Linked DNA regions of Homo sapiens: region 1 is reported to be linked to region 2. The links are microRNA targets in miRTarBase. Many come from high-throughput screens and were not tested one by one. Region 2 holds a microRNA gene; the other region holds the end of a gene's coding sequence.

Region 1 (3,000 bases), not on the chromosome of region 2:
GACATGTGGTTTTCAAGCCTACATATTAGCCACTATACCAGATTGCCTCTCCATAGATAACAGGTCCATAAACAAGCAACTTAGAATAAATTCAACTTCAAAGAAACAAATAAAAATCCAGAAGTGGAATTAATTTTTTCAGAGGAAGAGAGGAAAACAGGAAGTAGTGAATTACCCTTTTGTCCATTGTGACATTACAACTAATTTCTCCATCTCTGTTTTCTTCCAGTTCCACTGTTGCTCAGCCATCTGAGATGCCCCCATCTCCTCTGGTGTGGGAGTGATGGTGGAAGATAATGTACTACTGAAGATGTAATGTAGCTTTCCACTGGAGTCTGGGATTTGCAATTCTGGAGGTTAATCATGCTTGTACTGTAATTTTACTAATGAAGTTTTAAATTAACAACCACTACTTGTATGATATGAATAATATTTAGAAATGTTACTAGACTTTTAATCTTGTAAAGTGGTTGTGCTTTTAGAAGAAAAATATTTTACCCAGAGTTGCACATGTTTTATGAATTTAGTGCAGCTGTTATGGCTCACCTCAGAACAAAAGAGAATTGAACCAAATTTGGGAGTTTGGGGTTTTATGTTTTGTTTTTCTTTTCTAAAATGAAGTGAGATTGTTCACACACACACACACACACACACACACACACAAACACAAAGGACAGTCATACATTTTGATATTTGAGCCATTCCTAAAGATTTGGGGTTTTCTAAAACTAAAGAATCTAGGAACCTTGCCTGCGACCAATCATGGAGCCACGTGAGCTGATCGTGGCTGCACCTGGGGGGAGGGTAGGGAGGAGGGGCATGCCACCTAATGATCAAGCCCTATAATTAGCTTCTCATTAGAGCCGTGATGGTGATGTGTGCTGTCTAAAATCCAATGTTGTGGGTAGAGAGAATGAGTTTGTGACTAGGAGAGACTAAACTTTTGTTTTCCTTACCCAGTATAAATATATATATATATATTTAATCTATTTTTATTAGAAGTTTTTCTGCTCTTTCTTACATAAAAGAACCCCAAGCATGCATCTTTCATGTGTGTAAATAATTCATTTCTGGGCTAATTTCAAAAGAATCCCAATATTGCTGTATAGAAAGAGAACTAGCTTGCACATTTTAGGTCTGTGAAATTTTGTGAGACTTTTCCTGCACTGGACAGTAAAAAAATAATAAAAGACAAAAACAAATTTAAAAAAAAATTTAAGCCACAAAAAAAGGCACATAGGGAATTATGTCAAATGTGTTTGTGTCCTTAGGCAAAGCTGTGGGAGTCTTGAAATGTCACAGTAGTAAATAACTTATTACTTTTTGACAAGTTCTTTTTTTCTGTTGGAACACTGAATTCTTCTGTGCATATGTACATATGAATACAAATCGAAGGCCTCTACCTCCTGGAGTTATACAACTTGGCTTGTTTACCTCCACATGCTGATGATGACTATTTTTTTTTTTTGAGTTCAGTGTGGAGACTTGAAACTTGAATGTCCCTTCCAACTTTTATATTAAAAATAAAAAGACAAGAAAATTGAAGATCATTTTTCACCTGTACAAGGAATACTAATGGATCGTCTTAAAATTGGTCTAGGAAAAAACCTTGGTGTGTGTTATGGACAATTAACTGTTAAAGTTATTGTAAGTTATCTGTATTTAGCAGAGTATTTTCAACTTGAGTGATCTGAGCTGAATTTGAAGACTATTAATAAGTTATGTTTGGAAGTTTTAACTTCAATGAAGTAATTATTTGCTGTGAAAGAAACAAACATTGAATTACTAAACAAAGATGGTGCAATATCTTTGTTTTTTTTTTATGAGGCTCCTGAGAATCAACCCAACTGAAGCATTTCAATTCACTTGAATGAGAAACGTGTTTAGTATCAAAAGAGCCCAAGAAGACACTGGTGTGAAAGGTACAATCTCAGAGGTTGGTCAATTACCGTGGCACACTTTCTGGTCACTTTGTACAATGTAGATTTGAAGTACAGTGGTGAAAACATTAAATGTGACATTTGAAAAAGATGTGTCATCTGTTTTATTTCAGTTTCTTTCCTTTGTTTTCTCTTCAGTACAGCTCGTATCCTGACTTTGCAAAGTTTTGAGACACTTCCTATTTATATTTCCACTTTGATCTTTGAGGAAATTGGTTGTTTTTAAAAATCTTCTCAAAAACTTTAGATTGACAAAAACATATTGAAAATTTAGTTAAATCAATATCAAAGATGTGATTTAAATATACACAATAGAGAAGTCTTTTTAGACCTTGGAGTCTCTAATCCAGTGGTTTTCAAACTTTTTTTTCTTTGAAGCAATATCTTGGAGTCCAATATATTAAATACATAAAAGTAGATTGCTCTGTATGAAGCAGACTGGTAAAGGGACTTGACACCTCCCTCCTCTTCACTTCTGCCTCCTGCCTCTAGCAGCCCAAAGGTACTTTCAGCTAAGGAAGAAGTCCCAGCCCAGTGGTGGTGTAATCAAGGCCTGAAACCAGACTGCCTGACTTCAAAATACTTTCCCTGAGGCTAGATAAAGCAACATTACTCTTGAGTTTGTAGGTGGCGTGTACTTCTCCCTATCTTTTTTATTTAGCAAAATGAATGGATTTTTTTTCCTGACATTGAGGCAGTTGACTATTCTAACTCATGTAAATTAATATAAATACATTTATTATTCATTCAACAAAATTTTGAATACTTACTAAGTATAAGAATTACTTGTCAAGAAGCCATATTAATATCACCAATGCTTAGATAAGGAAACCAGTTTTATCACTTACAAGAGAGCATTTTGAGTTAACACATATCATTTTGAAACTAAATTCTGACCGGGCATGGTGGCTTACACCTGTAATCTCAGCACTTTGGGAGGCTGAGGTGGGCAGATCACTTGAGGTCATGAGTTCAAGACCAGCCTGGCCAACATGGTGAAACCCCATCTCTACTAAAAATATAAAAATTAGCCAGGCATGGTGGCGGGCGCCTATAATCC
Region 2 (3,528 bases):
GCATGGGGAAGGGGCCCAGTCTGCCTGCTGGCTGGTGGCGAGCCCACAGTACAGCTGCAGGGCTCGGGCAGGGGTGGCCGGAACCAGGAACTGGCCCTGCGTGTTGGAGCAGAGTTGAGAAGGTGGCCGCTGGGGCCGATAGATGTGCTGTTTTTGAGCGGTGGCACCGATGGGCAGGATGGGCCCACAGAGGCTGCTGGGGCCTGGGTCACACCTGAGCTTGCCAGCCAGGCTGCAGCTGAGGGCCTGGACATAGCCACCTTCCTAGCCCACAATGACTCACATACCTTCTTCTGCTGCCTCCAGGGTGGGGCACACCTGCTGCACACAGGGATGACAGGTACCAATGTCATGGACACCCACCTCTTGTTCCTGCGGCCTCGGTGATGGCATAGGTCACATTTTGGGAGTTCAGAGGAGGCCTACAAGGGCAAGGTCAGATGGCAGAGCAAGGTTGGTCCTCAGGGCCTCTCTAAGCCTTAGGGCCCCTCCTCTCCTTGGCCTTGGCTGTTTGGTTAACTGTCACCTTCCACTCAGGGCCTCTGCTCTATATCTATTCCCTTCCAGCCAGACTGGCAGATGGGGGCTTCCCCCTACCCCTGAGGATGAGGACAAGCCCCTCGGCCAGTTCAGCGTTCCCGTGCTTCTCCCTTGGGCAGCCTCTCTCTTGAGCCCCTCACCCTGTTTCTTTCTGTGAAGCGAGAATGTCTGAAAATAAATAGGACCATGCCATGGGTTCTCAGTGCGCCTTCCCTCAGAGTGAGGCCTCACGGGGGAGCCGCTGGGAGGGGAGCGTGGTACGGCTGCAGCCACAGTACCAGGGCCTGGCAGGACTCTTAACACCCCTCTACTGGGCTGGGTACGTGCAGGATGTGCCTCGCATAACGGGAGCCTGTGCCCATCCCTCTGGAGTGTGTGAGGGTTGAGCTTGGCTCCTGACAGCTTTGATGTGCGTGAGCAGAGACCCCAGGGAGGACAGGCCTAAAGACTGCAGTCTGGGGTGACCAGCCACCCACCCACCCAACCATGACTCCACCATGGCACTGTCACCATGGCTTCTCCAGCCTCAGCTTGTAGGCCTCGTTGGATGGATGTCCTTTCTGTCTTTGGACAGCCCTTAGCCACATACTGCACTTCTGGTTGAGCTGAAGTTTGTCCCACCCCCCAGTGCTGTTTCCTTGTGACAGCCCTTGTCCTAGGCTGAACATCCCTAGTTCCTTCAGCCACTCCTCTGGGGACCAAGTCCAGACCCTGAAGTCAGCCCTTCAGTGGGGGTCCCAGCACTGGGATGGTGGGTCCAGCCAGTGATGAGGTCCAGTGACCCACACCTCTTCCTGTGACCACTGGCGGGAGAAGAGGCAAGTGGGAATAGAGGAACGGCTGTGTTGGCCTGGCCAGCAGCCTGGGTTGAGAGAGGGAGGTGCCACTGTCCTGCCTCCTTTTGAGCCCCCTTGCTCAGTGTCAGAACCCTCCGCTGGCTGTCCCCGCCGTGCGCCACGGCTCCAATCCCTATATGAGTGAGCAGTAGAATCACATAGGAATAAAAAGCCATAGAGAACAGCGAGGCCTGGGGCTGCTCTTGCAGGCACTTCTTCCACCCCAACCCTCCCCTCCTCCCTGAGGGTGTGGAGGGGCCCTGGGCCAGGGCTGGCAGGACTTTCCCCTGGGAAGGGTTTCCCTTCCCCACCTGGGCTCTGGGCAGCCTAGCTTGCAGACAGTTCATGACCTGGGGGCCTGGCTCACACAGGGCAGGCTGGAGATTGGGAGGGAGGTAAACGTGGTAAGCGGGCTCTGGGGACCAGGGAGGTTTAGGAAAAGGGGAGCTTGCACCCCACTGGGATGCGCAGGCACCGCTTCCTTTCCTTCTGTGCTGGCATGGAGTTCCTGCTGACTAGGGTCACAGTCTCTGGGGTTATGGTGATCCTCGCATGATCCTGTGCCGTGGTGCTCCTCTGGCAGCGTCTACATGTAGCCTGTTCCTGCCTCAGTCCTTGCTCTTGGGAGCATGAGTATTGGCACTGGGTTCCAAGTTCCAGGCAAAAGCAGGATAGGAGAGCTGGGGCAGGGGCTGCAGGAGCTGAGGGCCTGGCAGCCATGTCCCCAGTGTGTGTGTGGGTGGTAGGTGTGTGAGTATACAGACGTTGGTGTTGGCGTACTCAGAGTGGGAATGCATCTCTGAGTGTACACATAGATACTTAGTACAGGGCACATGACTCCCTGCATCCCTGCTGAGGGCTTTGGGTATGGATAGGATCTTGCAGGAGGTTCCCCCTGCTCTACATTGACCCCTTCCCTATACTTCTGTTTGTAGGGGCTGGGAGGCCAGGGCCCGGATTGGACCCCATAGGGCCAAATGGTCTGTGAGCCTAACCCGTTAGATTTGCTCACTGGATACCCCAGAGATAAGAAAGGATGTATTTGGCCACAGTCTAAATGCTGAGATGAGAAAACCCTGCACAGTGAATGTTTTGATAGGATTCATTACTTGCTCCATAAATGTCAATTTTGGATCATTGAAGTGCCCGTCCCTTGCTCTTGGCTTCTGTTTCTTCCGGCTGCTGCTGCCCTCGTGCCCACCTCATCGTCATTTTCTGAAGCTTCCCCTGGCCCAGCTGGAGGATTTCACCATGGAGGGTGTCTGGCCCTGCTGGCTATAGCAACCCTCACAGGCCTCTCCATTCTCTGCACTTGGCATGAGCCAAGAGCAGTGGGGCAGTGGGCCTGGGCAGCCCTTCAGTGTCAGCTAGTCCCAAGCGTTTGATTTATAGTTGGAGATTCAGAGAGAGAAGGTGGCTTACTGGGGACTGTACAGTCCCACATAAGGGCCACAGAACCAGGGTAAGAACCTAGTTGGAACCTGCTTGACTATCCTCTGCCACTCTCTGGGGCTCAGATACCCTGGGGCCAAGCAAGGGCTCAGCCAGATCCAGGGGATCTACTTCTGCTTCCCCACTGCCCCTCAAGGGCTTGGGATGGCGACACAACCATGCTTGGCCTCTCCAGGGATCCACACAGCAGATGTGTTGGAACCTTCTTGTCTCAGAGGGACAGCTCCATTGTGTGTGTGATTTGGCAGAAAACCATGCGCAGTTGAGTGGTGGGCTTCTACATAAATGTGTGTCTGCATCTGTATGCACATCTGTGTGTGTGTGCATGTGTGCGTGTGCATGAATATATGTATAAGCATGTGTATGTGTAGTGCAGCCCACAGCCAGTCTCTGAGCTCTGCTGTGCCCCATCCCAGGGTGGAGACACACAGGTGTAGTTAGAGTGTAGGGGATACAATGAGCAAGTTGGGCAAGAAGGCCCAGAAGACTGGCAGAGGCTAGTGTGCCTGGCCGAGGGAGTTGACTTCACATTGACATCAGTGGCAAACCTCATGAAGATTTTGGCAGGGAATAATGTCATGAAGCTGTTTTGGGACTTTAATGCTGAGAGCCAGCTTCCTTACAGCAGAGGGCGGGGGTTGGGGGCATGCAAGGAGATGGAAGGGGTTGCAGATAGGAGAGGTGCATTACCAGGCTCTGA

What was found. The annotated mature microRNA hsa-miR-135a-3p reads UAUAGGGAUUGGAGCCGUGGCG and lies in region 2 at 1,493-1,514, opposite strand. An mRNA with a match to its seed (bases 2 to 7 or 8) in the 3' UTR can be bound and repressed. Matches are read on the target gene's strand: a 7mer-m8 pairs with bases 2 to 8, a 7mer-A1 pairs with bases 2 to 7 and ends in A, and an 8mer does both.
Region 1: the mRNA of NLK is a reported target of hsa-miR-135a-3p. Seed matches in the 3' UTR shown: 7mer-A1 at 839-845.

Annotation. Positions count from the first base shown.
Region 1 is chr17:28,194,353-28,197,352 of GRCh38, forward strand. It overlaps NLK (nemo like kinase), which reads left to right. Exons shown (of 11, transcript NM_016231.5): 11 at 230-2,029. The coding sequence ends at 284. Among named protein-coding and RNA genes, the nearest start is that of TMEM97, 120 kb to the right of the region's middle.
Region 2 is chr3:52,292,740-52,296,267 of GRCh38, forward strand. MIR135A1 (microRNA 135a-1) reads right to left here and starts at 1,569; the gene lies at 1,480-1,569. GLYCTK (glycerate kinase) reads left to right here. Exons shown (of 5, transcript NM_145262.4): 5 at 1-2,518. The coding sequence ends at 387.